Homo sapiens: one gene and its partners. The protein of the gene in region 1 purifies or fractionates together with the protein of each later gene. This does not show direct contact. Each region holds a gene or a part of one and is shown in the gene's direction. Other genes may lie near its edges. The genes, in order: SIK1, DSG3, APOBEC3A and FBXO22.

Region 1 (5,318 bases):
CTGCAGCCCCTTCGTGGCTGGCTTCTGAGTCCTTGTTGAGTCTGGGAATCAGGCCCAGGTTACTGTGGGCTGCGGGAGAAACCCAGCCCATGGATGCCTTCTCAGTGCCCTATTTCGAGGGTGGACGGGTGCCCTTGCTGCACAGGCTTGTGCCTTGCGCCTGCCGTCCCCGCCCAGTACCCGCACCCAGGGTGCTGGCATCATCCCTGAGTCCAACCCACTGGCTGTGGCTCACCCGGCTTTTCTGTGTCATAAAGATGCCTGTCCACCTGGTGCTCAGGTGTGGGGCACGGCAGAAGGGTGAACCTAAGTGGTTCTCTGTGTGGTGGACACAAAGTGTGGCAGCCCCCAGGGTCTGGATCCCTGGCTGATGGCTCCCCTTGGGTGGCAGGACTGAGCCGATGGCCCGGCCCCTGCTCCTGGGCCCTGGCGTGTCAAACCACGTGGGGCGGTGGGTGGGAGCGCAGCCGAGGTCCCGGCCGCCCTGGCTCAGCCTCCTGGCCCCTCCACAGACTGTGAGAGCCTGATCCGCCGCATGCTGGTGGTGGACCCCGCCAGGCGCATCACCATCGCCCAGATCCGGCAGCACCGGTGGATGCGGGCTGAGCCCTGCTTGCCGGGACCCGCCTGCCCCGCCTTCTCCGCACACAGCTACACCTCCAACCTGGGCGACTACGATGAGCAGGCGCTGGGTATCATGCAGACCCTGGGCGTGGACCGGCAGAGGACGGTGGAGGTGAGCCTGGCCACACTTGCCCTGGCCTCACCCGCAGGGGCTAGGCAGCTGTCTCAGGGGAAGCAGGCACTCACCAGCTGAGTTAAAACGGGAGCACAGGCTAATTTAGGGGCCGGCTTGTCCACCCCACTAAAGGATATTCTCAGTCACCCAAGAATAACCTGGGATCGGGTGGGCCCTGGGGCTCCCCGCCATCCCCATGCTGATCTCTGCTCCTCTTGTTCCCAGTCACTGCAAAACAGCAGCTATAACCACTTTGCTGCCATTTATTACCTCCTCCTTGAGCGGCTCAAGGAGTATCGGAATGCCCAGTGCGCCCGCCCCGGGCCTGCCAGGCAGCCGCGGCCTCGGAGCTCGGACCTCAGTGGTTTGGAGGTGAGGGGGAGGAGTCTCCTCCCAGGCCCCAGGCTCCCTCCCCTGTCAGGCACCGGCTTGGAGGGCGGTTCCTTGCGTGGGCAGTGGGTCCCAGGCCTCGTGGGGAAGGGGGTGCCAGCTGCTGGGGGCTGGACTCTGCCCAGAGGCCACTTGTCCCTGACTCATCCCTGGGGCCGGCCTGTCACGCCACCTTCTGGCAGCGCAGCACCAGCACCTGGTCCTGAGCCCAGCCTGGCCAGCCAGTGTCCCTCCGTCAGCTGTCATGCCCACCAGCGAGGCAGCTTGCACTCCAGACAGAAGCCAGCTTGTTTCTTCTCTTGATGGCGCTGGTGGTCCGGAGTCGCTCCCCTGACAGCGTCTTTCCCGTCTGCCGGCCCCAGGTGCCTCAGGAAGGTCTTTCCACCGACCCTTTCCGACCTGCCTTGCTGTGCCCGCAGCCGCAGACCTTGGTGCAGTCCGTCCTCCAGGCCGAGATGGACTGTGAGCTCCAGAGCTCGCTGCAGTGGGTGAGTGCCCACAGCGGGTGTGCAGAGGGCTCGCCTCAGCCCAGCCCTGGTGCCCCCGGTGTGCCCGGGTCACCTGGAGTCCGAGAAGTCACTGGCTTGTGTCTCTCCAACGCAGCCCTTGTTCTTCCCGGTGGATGCCAGCTGCAGCGGAGTGTTCCGGCCCCGGCCCGTGTCCCCAAGCAGCCTGCTGGACACAGCCATCAGTGAGGAGGCCAGGCAGGGGCCGGGCCTAGAGGAGGAGCAGGACACGCAGGAGTCCCTGCCCAGCAGCACGGGCCGGAGGCACACCCTGGCCGAGGTCTCCACCCGCCTCTCCCCACTCACCGCGCCATGTAAGTGTCCCCGGGGGCCCAGGAGGACACCGGTGGATAGGCTTACGGTCGACGTGAGGGTGGGCTAATTTAGAATGGACGTTTTGCCCGGCAGCCTCTCAGGTTGGACTTCTCAGGATTTGCCATTTGTTTTAATCCCTGAGACCACACAGTTGATGTTTAGAGCCTGCCCTGCATGTGGTCGTTCCAGTGGAGGATACAGCATGGGGTCTGGCCTCCAGCAGGGTCCTCCCCAGGCCGCCCCTGGGTGCCGGGAGGGCAGCCCCTTGGCCTGAGGCCCACTATGACCTGCCCCCTGCAGCTGCACCGTGATGGTGGCTTGCCTTTGTGGCTCCCTGGGCTCTGGTGGCCTCGAGCCCTCTTCCCACCAGGTTGATGGTGGGGATGGGGAGGCCAGCGCAGCCATGTGTGCCCAGCAGTGGCCGGGGGAGCCTATTCCTTTGCACTGCAGCATCAAAAGCGCTGTCCTCCCCCCACAGGTATAGTCGTCTCCCCCTCCACCACGGCAAGTCCTGCAGAGGGAACCAGCTCTGACAGTTGTCTGACCTTCTCTGCGAGCAAAAGCCCCGCGGGGCTCAGTGGCACCCCGGCCACTCAGGGGCTGCTGGGCGCCTGCTCCCCGGTCAGGCTGGCCTCGCCCTTCCTGGGGTCGCAGTCCGCCACCCCAGTGCTGCAGGCTCAGGGGGGCTTGGGAGGAGCTGTTCTGCTCCCTGTCAGCTTCCAGGAGGGACGGCGGGCGTCGGACACCTCACTGACTCAAGGTGAGCCACGCTCCTCCCACACTTACCTCCACCTTCCCCAGGGGACCATGTGTGTCTCTGGCAGTACGTGACTTTGTCCGTGATGGCAGATGGCACCCCCTGTTCTCCACCGGGCCTGGGTGGGACCCTCAGTGCTCTGGGCAGGCTGGGGTGCTCAGTGCTCTGGTGGCTCGGGGCGTCACGGCCTGCTGGGATAGACACACATGGGTCCCTGAGCACGCGGCCTCCATGGCTGGTTCTGAAAGCACAGGAGACGACTCTGTGCTGGGCAGCACCTCCCGACTTGGAGGAGGGAGGGCCCCTGGCTGCCGGCTGCCTCCACGCCATCCTGGGGCTTAGGTGCCAGACTCCTGTCCAGACGTGCTTGTGTCACCCGTCCTTTCCTTACCCCCAACCTGAGGCTTGGAAACCCCTTAAGCCAAGGGCCGTGGATGCTGGGCTGAGAGCCGGGTGGCCGTTGACCTCCTGATTCATTCTCCCTGCAGGGCTGAAGGCCTTTCGGCAGCAGCTGAGGAAGACCACGCGGACCAAAGGGTTTCTGGGACTGAACAAAATCAAGGGGCTGGCTCGCCAGGTGTGCCAGGCCCCCGCCAGCCGGGCCAGCAGGGGCGGCCTGAGCCCCTTCCACGCCCCTGCACAGAGCCCAGGCCTGCACGGCGGCGCAGCCGGCAGCCGGGAGGGCTGGAGCCTGCTGGAGGAGGTGCTAGAGCAGCAGAGGTAGGGCCTGCCCCCGCCCTGGGACCCCGGGTGGGCACACGGCAGGTTATCTCCTCGAGGAACCTCATCTGCTAAGTGGTTCCCTCCTCTCTGTAGCCCAGTGCACACCCCCGCTCCCAGCCAGGGAGATGTGTGGGGCGTAGGTCCTAGGTGCTGAGCCATGGGGGTGCAGCAGGCGGGCGTGTCCTTTAAAGTCCCTGGGTGGGTGAGGGTGGCGGGGAGCGAGGGCGCCTTGTGGCCGCATCTCTGAGCTGCTGAGAAACCGGGTGGAGAATGAAAGGTGGGGCGCGGTCAGGGATCAGCCACGCACCTGCCCTCGGCAGCCGCGGCTGGCAGCTCCTCGGGCGGGCCCTGCCACACGGGCACTCGGAAACCCGAGAACCCTGCGAGCCGGCGCAGTGACCACCTGTCCTCTGTTCCCACAGGCTGCTCCAGTTACAGCACCACCCGGCCGCTGCACCCGGCTGCTCCCAGGCCCCCCAGCCGGCCCCTGCCCCGTTTGTGATCGCCCCCTGTGATGGCCCTGGGGCTGCCCCGCTCCCCAGCACCCTCCTCACGTCGGGGCTCCCGCTGCTGCCGCCCCCACTCCTGCAGACCGGCGCGTCCCCGGTGGCCTCAGCGGCGCAGCTCCTGGACACACACCTGCACATTGGCACCGGCCCCACCGCCCTCCCCGCTGTGCCCCCACCACGCCTGGCCAGGCTGGCCCCAGGTTGTGAGCCCCTGGGGCTGCTGCAGGGGGACTGTGAGATGGAGGACCTGATGCCCTGCTCCCTAGGCACGTTTGTCCTGGTGCAGTGAGGGCAGCCCTGCATCCTGGCACGGACACTGACTCTTACAGCAATAACTTCAGAGGAGGTGAAGACATCTGGCCTCAAAGCCAAGAACTTTCTAGAAGCGAAATAAGCAATACGTTAGGTGTTTTGGCTTTTTAGTTTATTTTTGTTTTATTTTTTTCTTGCACTGAGTGACCTCAACTTTGAGTAGGGACTGGAAACTTTAGGAAGAAAGATAATTGAGGGGCGTGTCTGGGGGCGGGGGCAGGAGGGGAGCGGGGTGGAGGGAACACGTGCAGTGCCGTGGTGTGGGGATCTCGGCCCCTCTCTCTGGGTTCGTCGTGGTTGAGATGATTACCTCGGACGTCTACGGAAACGAGCGGGCGCATTGTTGTCCGCTTGTGTGTGTGTGTGTGTGTGTGTGTGTGCGCGTGCATTGATTACTATCCATTTCTTTAGTCAACGCTCTCCACTTCCTGATTTCTGCTTTAAGGAAAACTGTGAACTTTCTGCTTCATGTATCAGTTTTAAAGCAGCCCAGGCAAAGATCATCTACAGATTCTAGGAATTCTCTCCCCTGAAATCAAAACCTGGAAGACTTTTTTTTCTTATTTTAGTTGAGAAGTTTCATAAACTGCTCAAGGATTAGTTTTCCAGGACTCTGCGGAGGAACGGCAGGAAGAACCTCAGAGAGGGCAGAGGTGACTTCAAAGTGCTGGGGACTCCGTCCTGAGGGTCACTTGGCCCTGAGCCCCTGCGTGCCCTTGCGGAAGCCCAGAAGCTTCTTCCTGCTGCACCTCCCGTTTCCGCTGCTGCTGACGTTTATGCATTTCATGATGGGGTCCAACAAGAACACCTGACTTGGGTGAAGTTGTGCAATATTGGAGGCTGACTGTAGGGCTGGGCAGCTGGGAGACAGGCTCATGGCTCATGGCTCATGGCTCAGGGCGGTGCCTGCCCTGGGCCGGGACCCCCCTCCCCACCCCCCACCTAGGCTTTTTGGGTTTTGTTCAAGGAAGGTAAAGTGAGAGGTTTAGGTCAGTGTTTTTAAGTTTTTGTTTTTTTTTTAAAGCAAATCCTGTATATGTATCTACATGGGAGACAGGTAGACACTA
Region 2 (5,318 bases), on another chromosome or scaffold:
TTGAATTCTTCACAATTAAATAATTTCCAAGTAATCAGATATATATCAACTTTGTTCAATTAAGGAATTTGCTTTGATAAATACAAAGTTTATCACAATGTTTCAGAGTTTTTAAATTTTAAATTTCAATATATATAGAAAGCTATGAGATATTATGAAAGATGCTAATATGAATGATATTACTTACCTGTGTATATTTCATGACATTTTTCCCAAAAAAATTTAATAAATACAAAATCATGTTTAAAATTTGGACTGATTTATTTGAATTATCTAATTCATTCTACAAATTTCCCCAAGAATCCCCATTCTAGAAATCAGAAGTGTAGTCAGGCCCTAGGCCTGGCTGGGATGAGCTACCTGCATCTAATCCATAGTCTTATGTTCTGTCCCCTGCCACACTAAAGCATGAGGTAACCCCAAACAAGATCTCGGCCAAACTAAAGAGCAGGTGCTATTATACTTGCTTTTTGTTTAATCTAGCTACCCATATCCTCAGATTATATTTATTGTGTACATACCATATTCAATAGGAACCTTAGTGATACAACCATATACATTTTTATTAACAAATAGAGCATATGGATATCAAATTGCTTTATTTCATATATTTTTTAAATTTAATAATTAGATTTGCTTTTGATAATATTTGTAATTCATATCTATACCAAGGCACTAAGGCTATATCAATGCTTTAAAAATCATATAATTAAAATTTACAAAATAACCAGAAAACAAAAAGAAAGAAAAGTACAGTAATTCTCAAGATAAGGGAGGTTTTCTCCATGTTGGTATTTCCAATCCAGGCCACCAAAAGAGACAACTTAGTTCATTCAAATCGTCAGAAAACTATGTAAATATTTATTGGCTTGATTTAGTCATTCCACAGTTTATACATATCTCAAAACAACATGTACATGATAAATATATACAATTTTGTCAATGAAAATAGATTTACAAATAAAAACACATAAATTGTTTTTAAAATGTCCAAAATTATTATATTAGCAAATTAACTAAAACAAGTAGCCATTATATAAATATTAACTAAAATAATTTTTTTAAAAAAATACTATTCTAAATAATGTAAGGCTGTGCTGTCCTCTAAAAATCTGAAGATCATTGCAATATTCAGAAATGTTTCCCATCACCTACTTCCTGGGAAAACAAATATTCTACCTTATTGTGTATTAGAAGAATCATTCTCTGTAGGGCTAGTCCAAGCATGATTCATATTTTCGGGATGACTCTCCAGTTTTCCTGTAAAGGGGAGCCTGCCTGGCCCATCCCTCCTCTCATGTGTAGCTGAGTCATTTTTATGCGCTGAGAAAGGAATTGTGCAGTTACTACATTTATCTGGTCTTTTCTACCAAGTAACTCAAGGTACTGCTTTAAAAAGAGCAACAATGTTGGAAAATAATTTTGAGACATGTTATAACCACAAGTAATGGTTCTTTTCCATGACAAATTTGAACACGCACTCTTTGGAATCAAGGTTTCAGCTGGAATGTCTAGAAGGGAAGAGTCCTGACATCTTATGTCTGACATAATTACTCATTTGGTTCAGACTTGGACTAGTCTATTCATTATAACCCTAGAAAATAAACAATCTACATTGTTTCAAGAGCAACCATAGTCTTTTGCCAAATAGAAATCTAAATTGACTGTCATATAATTTTCTTTGTACCATTAGTTTGTTTTTTTTTTTTTTCTCTTTATGACAACTTTGGTTAGAATTTAGCAGTAGTTGGCTCACACCTGTAATCCCAGCACTTTGGGAGGCCAAGGCGGGTGGATCACCTGAGGTCAGGAGTTCGAGACCAGCCTAACCAACATGGTGAAACTCCGTCTCTGCTAAAGATACAAAATTAGCCGGGTGTGGTGGTGTGCCCATGCCTGTAATCCCTGTTACTCGGGAGGCTAAGGCAAGAGAATCCCTTGAACCCGGGAGACGAAGCTTACATTGAGTCAAGATCGCACCATTGCACTCCAGCCAGGGCAAAAATTGCACTCCAGCCAGGGCAAAAAGAGCGAAACTCCGTCTCAAAAAAAAAAAAAAAAAGAATTTAGTAGTAGTGAGGTACATGCTCTGGAGTTAGGCTACTGCGGTCGCTATCCTATTATGGCCATTAGCTAGGGCAAAGTATTCATTCCCTTGCATCTCCAATTCTTCATCTGTATACTAGGGATTATAATACTAGAATCTCCTTCAGGTGCCTGCTGTAAGTATTACATAAAACAGTAAGTATAAAGCTCTAGGAGTAGCAGCTGATACCGAAACTACACAATAAACATTAGCTACTGTTATTACTCTTCTAGTTTTTTTTTTCTTCTGACTTATTTTCCACCATTATTTTCCGACCAGATTCATCCGATAATCAGTGGATTAGCAAATACTTGTTAAGCACCTGTGAGGGTTACAAGAAAAAAAAAATAACCTAATAGCACTGAACTGGAAAGTTTACAATACTCCTGGCTTAGCACAGAAATTCTTTCATGTGCATAAAACAAGAAATAATAAACTGTGGTAAACCATCATGGGCTAAATTTCATGGTACAGAATATGTGTTGTACAAACTCAGAAAAAGAGACATCAGTAAAGACAATTTCATGGAGGTTGTTGGAACTTGATGGATCTGGAAGGATGAGCAATATTTAAGTGGGTGGAGTAGAAAGAGGTAATGCATGCCAGGCAGAACAGAAGATGAAAAATGACACAGATGAATGTCTCATATGCTCTTGAGAAGGTGAAGACCCTAGCCTACATGGCTTCATTTTACTGTCATTTAATTTTTTGGGGCCACTCTGAAAATTAAGTTCAATATTTAAATTGAAGTAATAGAGCAGAGATGAACAGATCCATGTCTCACTGCAAACAGGGTTTGTGATTGGAATAGCATATCCTCATCTTTTACGTTTTGTTCTCTAAACCAGACTGGTTCCATTCCATTCTTTTCACTTGTACAATTAAAGAAAATGTTCTGTAATTGTAGAGGACTAATACAGGATTGCCTTCCTACAAATCAGTTGGGTGGCTGAAGGTTTTTAATAATCCCCTGTGGCCCCTTTCTGAAGCATTTCACAATGGTGCTTACCAATGTTTCCCAAAGCAATGACTTTCATAGCTTCCAGGAACGGTGTATAAAGCAGCCAGGTAAGAATTGTGTGGTTGCTGCAACTGACTATTAGGCATAGTTTTTGCAAAGTCCAATAGGTTCTTCTTTATGTCATCAAAATTCTGTAGTCAATTAAAAAACTGGTGGAATGTGTTTATATTGACAGTAATATTCCTTTTCCTGGTAGGAACTTACCCTTTGATTATGGCTTCTTGAAACTTACTTCTTTTGAAATAGAAACAAATCACAATATGAACAATAGAATATAATAATCAGGATTATTCATTGTATATAATTCCTTATTTGAAGAATTCACATTTAATTCGACTTTATTTAAATGTCTGCAGGTGGTCATATTGGTTCATGGAGAATTGCGAATAGAGGTAAAGTATGAAAAAGGTTTTTGTACTTAAAATAATAGTTTAGTTTAAAAAAAAATTAAATTGTGTTTAGTAGAAATGAATATTTAATTTCTAAAATTATTCAATAATTTAATTGTGAAAATATATAAAATTAAAATTCTAATAACTGATAACAATATTTTAAAACTAGTCATCCATAAATGTCATTATTATAATTTATTTCATGCATTCTTTTCTTCTTATCTTAAACAAATCAGCTGGTCAAACCCTATGGGCCCAGTAAGATACTGTGGAGTATAAAAAGAAAATATAAAATACGACTAAATGCTAATATTAAAAATCACATAGCTTTGTAGTTATTTTAGTTATTTAACATTTATTACTTGCTTGACAAAGTATCAGGTAGAGCTAATTAGATACCTAACAGTCTTAGTGATCTTGAAACATAGGGGGTTCCTCAACTAGGTGTCTGTAATCAATATTCTAAGCAAAAATTGCCATTAATTTCCATAACAAATGGAATCCCTTTTTACATAAGACTAAAGGTCAATATGATGAAGAAGAGATGACTATGCAACAAGCTAAAAGAAGGCAAAAACGTGAATGGGTGAAATTTGCCAAACCCTGCAGAGAAGGAGAAGATAACTCAAAAAGAAACCCAATTGCCAAGGTAAGTTATATCAACAGGAGCGTATGAGTTTTTAGAATAAATGTATAAGGTGTAAATTAAAATAATACGGCAATTCCAAATAACAAAATGAAGACTGGGGAGTCCACAGAACAAGTGAACTGGTATCCTCAACAAAATAGTACAATAATAATAATAATGAGAGAAAGAGAGAAAGGAAGGTAGCTTCTAGGGTTATGAAAAAGAATTGAGACAAAGAATTGAGACATATTGACCAATTTTAATATAGAAGGCTTACTTGGATACAGAGTCTAGCAAACAAATAGGAAAAATAATGCATGTATAAGACAGAAATGGTTGGGAGCAAAATATGGATTGGTCATGTATTGATAACTGTTGAAGCTCAGTGATAGGATGTATCAGGTTTATTATACTATTCTCTTTCTTTCTTTCTTTCTTTCTTTCTCTTTCTTTCTTTCTTTCTTTCTTTCTTTCTTTCTTTCTTCTTTCTTTCTTTCTTTCTTTCTTTCTTTCTTTCTTTCTTTCTTTCTTTCTTTCTTTTTCTGAGATGGAGTCACTGTGCCTCCCAGGCTGGAGTGCTGTGGCGCGATCTCAGCTCACTGCAACCTCCTCCTCCCAGGTTCAAGCAATTCTCCTGCCTCAGCCTCCTGAGTAGCTGGGATTACAGGCGTGTGCCACCATGCCCGGCTAATTGTTTTTGTATTTTTAGTAGAGACGGGGTTTCACCATATTGGCCAGGCTGATCTCGAACTTCTGACCTCATGATCTGCCCACCTCGGCCTCCCAAAGTGCTTGGATTACAGGCATGAGCCACCACGCCCAGCCTGTTATACTGTTCTAACTTTACATATATTTCACATTTTTCATGTTAAAAAGCTTTAAAATTACAATAATAATAAGTAAATTATTTTAATACATATTTTAACCCTACCATACAATCTCTTTCCCTTTTTGTCTCTCCACTTCCCCCTATTTAAACTAAATAAATATCTTTTGTTTTTTAATGTTGTCAGGTAAAGAGGGAGCCTTCAGGAGTAGCCTTGTCAATATTAAATGACTTTGACTTTCTTTTAACATTTTAACACTATCATGTGGCCACAGTCTGAGCAAATATTCTAACACTAAAATGATTAGTGCACATCATTGGTTCAGGCTGGTTGTCAAAAACAACGGTTTGATTTTATTTCATAT
Region 3 (4,894 bases), on another chromosome or scaffold:
CGGCTTCAGTGACTATCCATGCCCAGGTGGGGTTGAGTCTGCCCAATGGCAAAGTGCTTCCTGAGGACCCTCCCAGGATCCCCTCACAGACACAGCTCTCACCAGGAACAATTCAGCAATGTGGGATCTGAGGACTCAGGGCCTACCTGACCTCACAAGGCCAGGATGCCCCAGTGCCCTCTCCTGGGCTTCATCCTGCACGGAGAGAGACTGAGGCAGGAGAGGCTGACCAGGGATCCTGTCCTGCCCAGGGTGGAGCCCACAGCAAGGCCAGAACAGGTCCCATGTCAGGATGCAGGGATGTCCAGCATTTGGGGAGGAGCTGGGCCAGGCCAGGCTGAGGGGCCCTGAGCCCGGGGGACTTTCTTCCCTGGCCCCTACCCAGCACAGCCTCTGTCTGGAGAGACCAGGTAATGCTTGGCTCCGGTGCTGGAAACTGGGACCTTCTCTGGGCTCTATGAGCTCAATGTGGGCCTCGCTGGATCCACACACACTGCTTGGAACATCCTTTCAAGGGTGCCAGTCTCCATCACCGCCTAAGCAGTGGGACTCCCCCAGGAACGACCCACAGCCCCTTCTCAGCACAAACCATGTCATCCACTCCACCCTGCATCACTGCTGATGGAGTCCCTCCCTGTCTTTGTCCCCATCACAATCACAGTCCTTGCTGCCCTGCTGTCCCCAACTTGACCGATTCCTAGTCTTAGTGGAAAATCCTTTTCTCTGGAGTTTGGAGTAAATACCATATTTCTATAAGTCAAAATAATGACAATTATACCATGTCACAGGGACCTTCCCACGTTGGAGTGAGTCCTGCTGGTCTTCTCTTCCCCACTACTTTTGGTGGAATTCATTTTGGCCTAAGTCTATATCACATTTGGGCTCAGCACAGGTTGTGGCACAGAATAGAAGCTTCTAGAATTATGGGCCACAGATGGGATGGGAGTAGGGGAGTTGATGAGTAGAGCAGGTCAATCTCCCCTTGAAGGAAGCACACTCACTCAGGGCCATCAGGCCAATGACCTCGGGGCTCCGCCGGCCCCTCCTCCCTGCCCCCATCTCTGTAGCCCCTCCCTGCAGGGCTGGGTCTGGGGTGAGGGTCCTGAAGGCTCTGACCTTGGGTACAAAATTGATGGGGGCTCCAAATGCTCAGTAATTAGAGAAAACACATTTTAATTTAATAATTAATGCAATATTTTAAAACGCAAATTTAATACAAATAGATCATGATGAATAAAAGCAAAGATTTTAATAAAGCCTGGCAGGAGAGTGCTGTCCTGTGTATAGTGGAGCTGGGGCAAAATAAAACCTCATTGCTCCTGATCTGTTTGTATTTAAATGGGCAACATTTTGCTTATCTTGGGATTTTTGCATAACATCTGATATTTTTAATATTGCATAGAAAATCATGCATCCTAATAACCGGGGTTTTGGTGACCCCTCTAATTTCGTGCTGGAGGCCCCCGCCTCCCCAGCCCCACCTGGTCCAGGCGCTCCCTCCCTGTTCACCACACATCACCTCACACTCTGTTTCCTTTTCTAGGCTAAGAATCTTCTCTGTGGCTTTTACGGCCGCCATGCGGAGCTGCGCTTCTTGGACCTGGTTCCTTCTTTGCAGTTGGACCCGGCCCAGATCTACAGGGTCACTTGGTTCATCTCCTGGAGCCCCTGCTTCTCCTGGGGCTGTGCCGGGGAAGTGCGTGCGTTCCTTCAGGAGAACACACACGTGAGACTGCGTATCTTCGCTGCCCGCATCTATGATTACGACCCCCTATATAAGGAGGCACTGCAAATGCTGCGGGATGCTGGGGCCCAAGTCTCCATCATGACCTACGATGGTAAGAATGGAAGGTTCAGGTGGGGTGGGGTGGGTGGGGGCAGGAGAGGTTCCTGGGAAGAAAAGGAGAAAGGCCTTGGTCTGCTGCCTGCAGAAACGATGGCTGGACTCTGGGACCTGACTTTGGGGTCGATGGGAAGAGAGAGGCCAGGCCAGGAGATGTGGGCCCAGGGAGGGCAGGGAGAGTGGCTGGAAGTGGAAGCAGAACTTGGGGCTTTCTGAAAGAATGAGAACTGGGCTGGCCCAGATTCCAATGGGAAGGAACTGCCTGATGAAGGAGCTAAGTCCCTAGGGGAGGGAGAGGGAAAGGAGGGACTGAAACCAGGATGTGGGAAGTCTGTCCTGAGAGTCATGGGCCCTAGGTGCCACCCCGATCCCACAGCGGGAGCGTGACTTATCTCCCCTGTCCCTTTTCAGAATTTAAGCACTGCTGGGACACCTTTGTGGACCACCAGGGATGTCCCTTCCAGCCCTGGGATGGACTAGATGAGCACAGCCAAGCCCTGAGTGGGAGGCTGCGGGCCATTCTCCAGGTGAGGGCTTCCTCCCTCTGCCCGGTGCCCCATCGGCCTCCCCCTCCTCCCCACTCCCCTGGGCCTTGCCTTCCCCTCTGCTCAGAGCCTCCTCTGGGTTCCCTGCTCCCCACAGGGCGCCCAGCTCCGTCCCTCCCTTTCCTTCTCACAGCCTCCTTCTCTTTCCCACCTCCCGCATCCCTCCCTCCTCTCCCGTCATTGTCACTGTCCCCAGGCCACCTCCCTGTGCCCTCTTTCCACTCTCTCACCTCCTGCTCCATTCAACCCCCCTGCTCTTCCAGAATCAGGGAAACTGAAGGATGGGCCTCAGTCTCTAAGGAAGGCAGAGACCTGGGTTGAGCAGCAGAATAAAAGATCTTCTTCCAAGAAATGCAAACAGACCGTTCACCACCATCTCCAGCTGCTCACAGACGCCAGCAAAGCAGTATGCTCCCGATCAAGTAGATTTTTAAAAAATCAGAGTGGGCCGGGCGCGGTGGCTCACGCCTGTAATCCCAGCACTTTGGAGGCCAAGGCGGGTGGATCACGAGGTCAGGAGATCGAGACCATCCTGGCTAACACGGTGAAACCCTGTCTCTACTAAAAATACAAAAAATTAGCCAGGCGTGGTGGCGGGCGCCTGTAGTCCCAGCTACTCTGGAGGCTGAGGCAGGAGAGTAGCGTGAACCCGGGAGGCAGAGCTTGCGGTGAGCCGAGATTGCGCTACTGCACTCCAGCCTGGGCGACAGTACCAGACTCCATCTCAAAAAAAAAAAAACCAGACTGAATTAATTTTAACTGAAAATTTCTCTTATGTTCCAAGTACACAATAGTAAGATTATGCTCAATATTCTCAGAATAATTTTCAATGTATTAATGAAATGAAATGATAATTTGGCTTCATATCTAGACTAACACAAAATTAAGAATCTTCCATAATTGCTTTTGCTCAGTAACTGTGTCATGAATTGCAAGAGTTTCCACAAACACTAGCAAATGTGTAGATGTCTTTCCTTGTGTAGCGGACCTGTAGCGGGGAAAGGTCACACAACATCCCTCTGGATCCAGAAAACTCAGCTAAACCTCACAGGAGAGGAACCTAAATGCAGACCCCACCCTCACTCACAGAGCCCCGCCCACCCTCACTTACAGAGCCCCGGGCGCTGATTGGAAGGGACAGGCCCAGCAGTAAGAGGACAGCCAGCAGCCAGTCTCCCTGTTGGAAAGGAACCACAAACGTGCAGTCAGGGGCCCTCGGGAGCCGCCCTCTGTCCACCCCTTCCTGATTCCACCCCCCTAGAGAGGGAGCCCAGGGGAGGCCATGGCTGAGACCCAGGACAGGCCCAGTCGGGGGAAGGAGCCCAGGGAGGGGGCAGGTGTCTAGGCTGGGCCCAAAGAGAGGGCTGGGGAGAGGAGCAGCCCAGGAGGCAGAGCCCAGCCACAGAGGGGAGGGGAGCTGAGTCCCGGGGACAGGAGGCTCCAGAGGCAGAGACGGAGCCCAGGGCTAGGGCGGCAGGTGTCAGGGCTGTGGCTTCAGCTTGGCGTCTGTCCTGGGCCTTCTGCGCTGGTTCCCAACTCTGGGATGTGTGACTTATATGCCTGATTACAGCGGCGGCTCCCACCTCACGATTTCTGGAAAGTCCTCAGAAGCCGCATATAAGACCAAGAACGGGCCTCACATGCAGCTGCTCCTGGGCAGAAACGACTCACTGTTTCCCTGGCCTAGACACACACAACACACAAACACACACAAGACACACATACACACAACACACACAACACATACACACACAACACATGCACAAAACACATACACACACACACCCACACACAGTGACAGAGACTTCACACAAAGAAACCTCCTCCAGGTGCCCCAGAGCACTCCGGGGCGCACCCCAGCCCCGCCCTGAGCAGAGGACTTTGGCATTTCCCACGCAGGGGCGGGTGCGGGAGGGACCGGCTTGTCAAAGCTGCCCTTTGCTTGTGTCTCTGGGTTTGATAACAGTCCTAACTCCACTTGTTGGAAGCAAGTGATGAAAAACGTGCAGTCATTCTGGGCAAAGGGACCAGTGTAGGGGAGGCATGAGAGGCTCACCTGGTGAAAGAACACCAGAGTTAGTCATGTCACAGGGCAGCTCCCAGAGAGACCTGCCCCTCGTCCCCCAGAACCCCACCTTCCAAGGGCCCAGGCTCCTGTCCCCCGGGCCTCAACTCACAGCTTTGCCCATGACCTGGGAGCCCTGGGGGTCCTGGTGAGGTGACTGGACACAGCCTCATGACACTGCTGGGACCTGGGCTGGGAACTGAGAGCCTGTGGTCCCTCTGGGCTGTAGGGGTCGGGGCCCCACAGTGGCGGCAGAGCCGGGACCTCGTACACAGCAGCATGGACTCCAGACCCAAGTGGAACCTCCATTCTGGTCTCAGGGTGACCCGGGCTGCACAGCCCAGCACCTGCCCAGGGTCCCTCTGCCCTGCTCTGTCCCTCAATAGTCTGGACCCCTGCTGGGTACTTGCCTTGTCCCCCCCTTACAGGGGACCAGGGTGA
Region 4 (5,318 bases), on another chromosome or scaffold:
CCTTCTGCTAGCTTTTGAATTTGTTTGCTCTTGCTTCTCTAGTTCTTTTAATTGTGATGTTAGGGTGTCAATTTTAGATCTTTCCTGCTTTCTCCTGTGTGCATTTAGTGCTATAAATTTCCCTGTAAACACTGCTTTAGCTGTGTCCCAGAGATTCTGGTACATTGTGTCCTTGTTCTCATTGGTTTCAAAGAACCTCTTTATTTCTGCCTTTATTTTGTTATTTGCCCAGTAGTCATTCAGTAGCAGGTTGTTCAGTTTCCATGTAGTTGTGTGGTTTTGAGTGAGTTTCTTAATCCTGAGTTCTAATTTGATTGCACTATGGACTGGGTGATACTTCAAGGGACTATGCAGAAGCACTGATGGATTCATGGGATCCAATTCCAATTTTTTTTTTTTCTTTGCAGAATGTTCGCATCTTACCACATACAGTTCTTTACATGGCTGATTCAGAAACTTTCATTAGTCTGGAAGAGTGTCGTGGCCATAAGAGAGGTAAATATCAAAAGAAAAGCTTTTGCTTCTGTTTTTTTATCATGTGCCTTCCGTTCGGAGTTCAATATTATACTTGTCCTGAGAGTTAACTGACTTTCTGAGGCTCTGGGACTGCCACCTGTAGTATGCATCAATATATCTATCTTTGAACCTTGAGGAACCCTTTCTGCTTCAGATTGATTTCTAAACCTTGTAGTGCAATTGAAACAAATTCGTTAGAAAGGTGTTGTTCTCAATTTGAGATGCTTTAATTCTCCAGGCACTTTTTATTATTAAAACAGGTTGTATGACTTGGCTATTCAGGCCTTTTACTGTATTGGAACATGAGGTCCCATTTACTAAAGTTATGTAGAGAAATGGTGCATTTTTGGCTTGCTGAGGGAAAAGGCAGAATGGGTATCCAAGATGCGCACACTCAGGTCCCAAGTTAGACTTAGATAATGGATTCTCATTGTCTAATTTGATCCAGGTGACTGTTGATGCAAATAGTAGTTATACTGCAATATCAGCTGAACAGAAAGGTACAATAGCAAGTCTAAAATTCAGCTGTTACTGCTAAATTTGACATCACTGGGGCAAAAGCAATATATGAACAGAGGGGAAAGGCAGACTAGTGGTGCAAAAGATCAGATTTATAATTTAAAAGCCAGGACCAAAACAGGTAAAGTGTTTGTTTTAATCAATGCTTTTAGACCTTTATTTAGAGCATTCTCGTGTTAAATGACTTAAATATTTCCAGTATTTGCTTTTTTACTTTTTCATTCTCAGATTTGACTTTAAATGGATGATATTTATCATTTTGCTACTGTATTTTTACAGCAAGGAAAAGAACTAGTATGGAAACAGCACTTGCCCTTGAGAAGCTATTCCCCAAACAATGCCAAGTCCTTGGGATTGTGACCCCAGGAATTGTAGGTGAGATAAATTAGCAACTTGATGATTTCTTCCTTGCATTAATGTGGGGTCCTTTGGATTGGTGAGTTATTTTTAGCTTAGAACCACATTTCTATTTCTGTCCATCTAAAATACAATAAAGTCAGTCATATTTACCATGGCATTATATTTGCCTTATATTAATGTTTATTAAGTTATTGTACTTCTCATCTCAAGGTTACCTGTATAAATATCCAGTAGTCATTCATAAGAGGGGAATGATCTCATTCTGCCTTCCTCCAAATTAGGAAGTATTTGTGGGCATTTTCAGAGTTTTGTCAGTTCAAGCAGTATTGTGTTTGGTGGGTAGGGGTGAGATGGGGCTGGGATTAGGAGCAAAGCTGGGCCTTACTAGGAGACTTCTGTTTCTCTGCTTTGGTACCACTCTTCAATGTTTACAGCATGAGGTTGTGCCCCTTTCCATGCTTGATTGCTGCTGGTGAATTTTTGCTGGTTTTTATTATTTTTGATTCTTTTCTGTAGTTAACTGGGGGAGGAGAGATTCTGTTGAGGCAGTAATGGTGCAATGGTTAGATACCTGGATTCGAATGCCGGCTGTACCGCTTAGTATCTGTATGACTTTGAGCAAGTTACCTAACTTCATGGGGCTTCACTGTCCTCATCAAGGAAGTGGGGATGATGACAGTAGTACCTTCCTTGGAGGGTTGTGAGAATTAAATGAGTTAACACTTGTAAAGCATTTACAATAGAGATACACAAAGCAGTAAGTAAATGTTAGCTGTCATTTATGTATTGTTTTTGAGATGGAGTTTCACTCTTGTCACCAAGGTTGGAGTGCAATGGCGTGATCTCTACTCACTGCGACTTCTGCCTCCTGGATTCAAGCAATTCTCCTGCCTCAGCCTCCCAAGTAGCTGGGATCACAGGCGCCCGCCACCACCACACCTGGCTAATTTTTGTATTTTTAGTAGAAACCGGGTTTCACCATGTTGGCCAGGCTGGTCTCAAATTCCTGACCTCAGGTGATCCACCGCCTCAGCCTCCCAAAGTGCTGGGATTACAGGCATGAGCCACTGCACCTGGCTGCTGTTATGTTTTTTTGTTCCAACTCAGTAGTACTCTACTGAGAATTGTCATTTTTAATCTTCACTGAAAGATTTTTGATCTGAATTTGAGTCTTATACAGTGAGGTAAAAAGAATTTTACATGTTTACAAATGAATATTATTTGTTCAGTTGCTCTAGCTGTGGTTTCTAAAGGGCTTAACATTTTTTTAAAAAAAAGAGTTTATTTCTTTTTGGCCTGGCGTGGTGGCTGACACCTGTAATCCCAGCACTTTAGGAGGCCGAGGCAGGCGGATCACTTGAAGTCAGGAGTTGGAGACCAGCCTGGCCAACATGGCAAAACCCCATCTCTACTAAAAAATGTAAAAATTGGCCAGGCGCAGTGGCTCACGTCTGTGGTCCCAGCACTTTGGGAGGCCGAGGTGGGTGGATCATGAGGTCAGGAGTTCAAGAGCAGCCTGGCCGACGTGGTGAAACCCCATCTCTACTAAAAATACAAAAATTAGCCAGGCATGATGGCGGGCACCTGTAATCCCAGCTGCTCAGGAGGCTAAGGCAGGAGAATTGCTTGAGCCCGGGAGGCAGAGGTTGCAGTGAGCCGAGATCACGCCATTGCACTCCATCCTGGATGATAGAGCAAGACTCTGTCTCAAAAAAAAAAAAAAAGCTAAAATTAGCTGGGCATGGTGGCTCATGCCTGTAATTCCAGCTACTTGGGAGGCTGAGGCAGGAGAATTGCTGGAAACCGGGAGGCAGAGGTTGCACCACTTCGCTCCAGCCTGGGTGACAGAGTAAGACTCTGTCTCCAAAAAAAAAAAAAAAAAAAAAAAAGTTTATTTCTTTTTTTATACTAGTAATAGTTATTTTTAGAAAAAAAAAATTAGAAGATTCAGATAAGCAAAAGCACCTTTAAGCACCACAGAGTTAACCACTCTTATGATGTTAACCTCTATTTATATATGTATGTAAATATAAAAAACCAGAATACAATTTTCTGTAGACTTGTAACCTACTGTGTTAGTCTACTAGGGCTACCATAACAAAATACCACAGACTGGGTGACTTAAACAACGGAAGCTTATTTTCTCACAGTTTGGGAGGCTAGAAGTCCAAGATCGGGGATGGTCTCTCTGAAGCTTACTTACAGCTGCTCTCTCACTGTGTTCTCATGTGGCCTTTTCTTCATACATAAGCATGCTTGGTGTCTCTTCCTCCTCTTCTCAGGACACTAGTCCTGTTGGATTAGGGTCCTACCCTTGTGACCTCATTTAATCTTAACTATCTCTTTAAAGGCCTTATCTCCAAATATAGTCACATGGGGGGTTAGGGCTTAAACATGAATTTGGGGTAGGCAGTAGGGAGGGAATGACACAGTTCAATCTGTAATATCTACCTGTAAAATTCAGAGCATATTACAAACATATTTCCATGTCTATAAATATATATTTGTCATCATTTTAATGGCTATATTCTATGATACCAATGTAACTTTTAATCTGAATACCAGTGTGGGACATTCAGGTTTTTTCTTTTTATTTTCTATTTGAAATTATGTGATAAAATACTTGGGTATATATATACTTTATATAATTGTCAAATATTTTTAGGGTAAACTTTTAAAAATTGGAATTGCTGTGAAAGTGTATTTACTACCCCCCCAACTTTTTAATTTGAAAAATATGGAGAAGTTGAAAGAATAATAGAACAGCATGATAAATACCCATATACCCTTTATCTAGTTTAGCAGTTGAAAAAATTTTGCAACATTTATTTTTTCTCACTTTGCTTATAAAAAATTTCTTTCTGAACCATTTGAAAGTTAAATGGCAAACATCATGACACTACACCCTAAAACTGTCAAAGCTGAAAAACTTTTACTCAGATAGTGGCTTGTTAGCTTAATGATTATCTTAGTGACCTAAACTGTAGTTATCTAGTTTTTACTGACTCTATTGGTGAAACTGTTTAACTTTTTCTCTAGTGACTCCAATGGGATCAGGTAGCAATCGACCTCAGGAAATAGAAATTGGAGAATCTGGTTTTGCTTTATTATTCCCTCAAATTGAAGGAATAAAAATACAACCCTTTCATTTTATTAAGGATCCAAAGAATTTAACATTAGAAAGACATCAACTCACTGAAGTAGGTAAGTTACTTTTATTTATCATTAACTGCTCATTTTATTGATTAATTTTGTTTTCTTTTTAATTCTGGCTAGTTGGTGGATATTAGGTTCCTTTGGGAGAATCTGAATTAAGTACACCTGTCACTGGAGATGTGGCTAATTCAAACAGGTGATTCACAGAGGCCAGTGTGATACATGTTTGGTAGAATTGATTTACTTTTTAAATTATTTTACTTGCATTAAAGCCCAAGAGAACCAGAGATGAAAAATTTTTCATAAATACTCTGTTGATGATAAACTTGTTTGTATTTAGTTCTGAATTTTAAGGAATTCTTGCTCTAATAGTTTATTTCATTTTGCTCTATTTTTGTTTTGTTAACCTTTTTTATTCTAGTAACAAGCATTTTAGAAGTTTTTAGAATACGCGGGTTAGTTCTTTGTGAACTAATTAGAAAGATGGGAACAAGTAAAGTGACCCTGATGAGTCTTAGGAAATATATGAGTTAAGGCAAGTCTATCAAGCAAGGGGTGTGCTGGGAAACATCCTGCAGGTAGTGTGGATGGAGCCCTGAAGTGAATTTGAAGAGGTAAAGGGTTGGCTTAATGTCTAAGCTTGGATGGGAAAGCTTAACTTAATATAGTAAACAACAAACGAATTACTCAAGGAAAGCAGCGTTTAGCCTTTTATCTACATCTGCAGATGGACTGATTGAATTCACTTCATTCATTAAAAATCACTG

What was found.
Region 2: the proteins of SIK1 (region 1) and DSG3 purify together in Homo sapiens (affinity purification with mass spectrometry, with the first as the bait; one large-scale study listed by BioGRID). This does not show direct contact.
Region 3: the proteins of SIK1 (region 1) and APOBEC3A purify together in Homo sapiens (affinity purification with mass spectrometry, with the first as the bait; one large-scale study listed by BioGRID). This does not show direct contact.
Region 4: the proteins of SIK1 (region 1) and FBXO22 purify together in Homo sapiens (affinity purification with mass spectrometry, with the first as the bait; one large-scale study listed by BioGRID). This does not show direct contact.

The regions. Positions count from the first base shown.
Region 1 is NC_000021.9:43,415,652-43,420,969, reverse strand, and holds part of SIK1 (serine/threonine-protein kinase SIK1), read left to right. Parts: intron 1-512; coding exon 513-736; intron 737-964; coding exon 965-1,111; intron 1,112-1,491; coding exon 1,492-1,617; intron 1,618-1,732; coding exon 1,733-1,949; intron 1,950-2,428; coding exon 2,429-2,710; intron 2,711-3,195; coding exon 3,196-3,427; intron 3,428-3,852; coding exon 3,853-4,228; 3' UTR 4,229-5,318. UniProt on the Homo sapiens protein: Serine/threonine-protein kinase involved in various processes such as cell cycle regulation, gluconeogenesis and lipogenesis regulation, muscle growth and differentiation and tumor suppression. Phosphorylates HDAC4, HDAC5, PPME1, SREBF1, CRTC1/TORC1.
Region 2 is NC_000018.10:31,452,977-31,458,294, forward strand, and holds part of DSG3 (desmoglein-3 preproprotein), read left to right. Parts: intron 1-3,463; coding exon 3,464-3,499; intron 3,500-4,016; coding exon 4,017-4,148; intron 4,149-5,318. UniProt on the Homo sapiens protein: A component of desmosome cell-cell junctions which are required for positive regulation of cellular adhesion. Required for adherens and desmosome junction assembly in response to mechanical force in keratinocytes.
Region 3 is NC_000022.11:38,959,844-38,964,737, forward strand, and holds the end of APOBEC3A (DNA dC->dU-editing enzyme APOBEC-3A), read left to right. Parts: intron 1-1,543; coding exon 1,544-1,838; intron 1,839-2,254; coding exon 2,255-2,370; intron 2,371-2,651; coding exon 2,652-2,666; 3' UTR 2,667-3,341; downstream 3,342-4,894.
Region 4 is NC_000015.10:75,912,796-75,918,113, forward strand, and holds part of FBXO22 (F-box only protein 22), read left to right. Parts: intron 1-407; coding exon 408-495; intron 496-1,314; coding exon 1,315-1,410; intron 1,411-4,434; coding exon 4,435-4,599; intron 4,600-5,318. UniProt on the Homo sapiens protein: Substrate-recognition component of the SCF (SKP1-CUL1-F-box protein)-type E3 ubiquitin ligase complex that is implicated in the control of various cellular processes such as cell cycle control, transcriptional regulation, DNA damage repair, and apoptosis.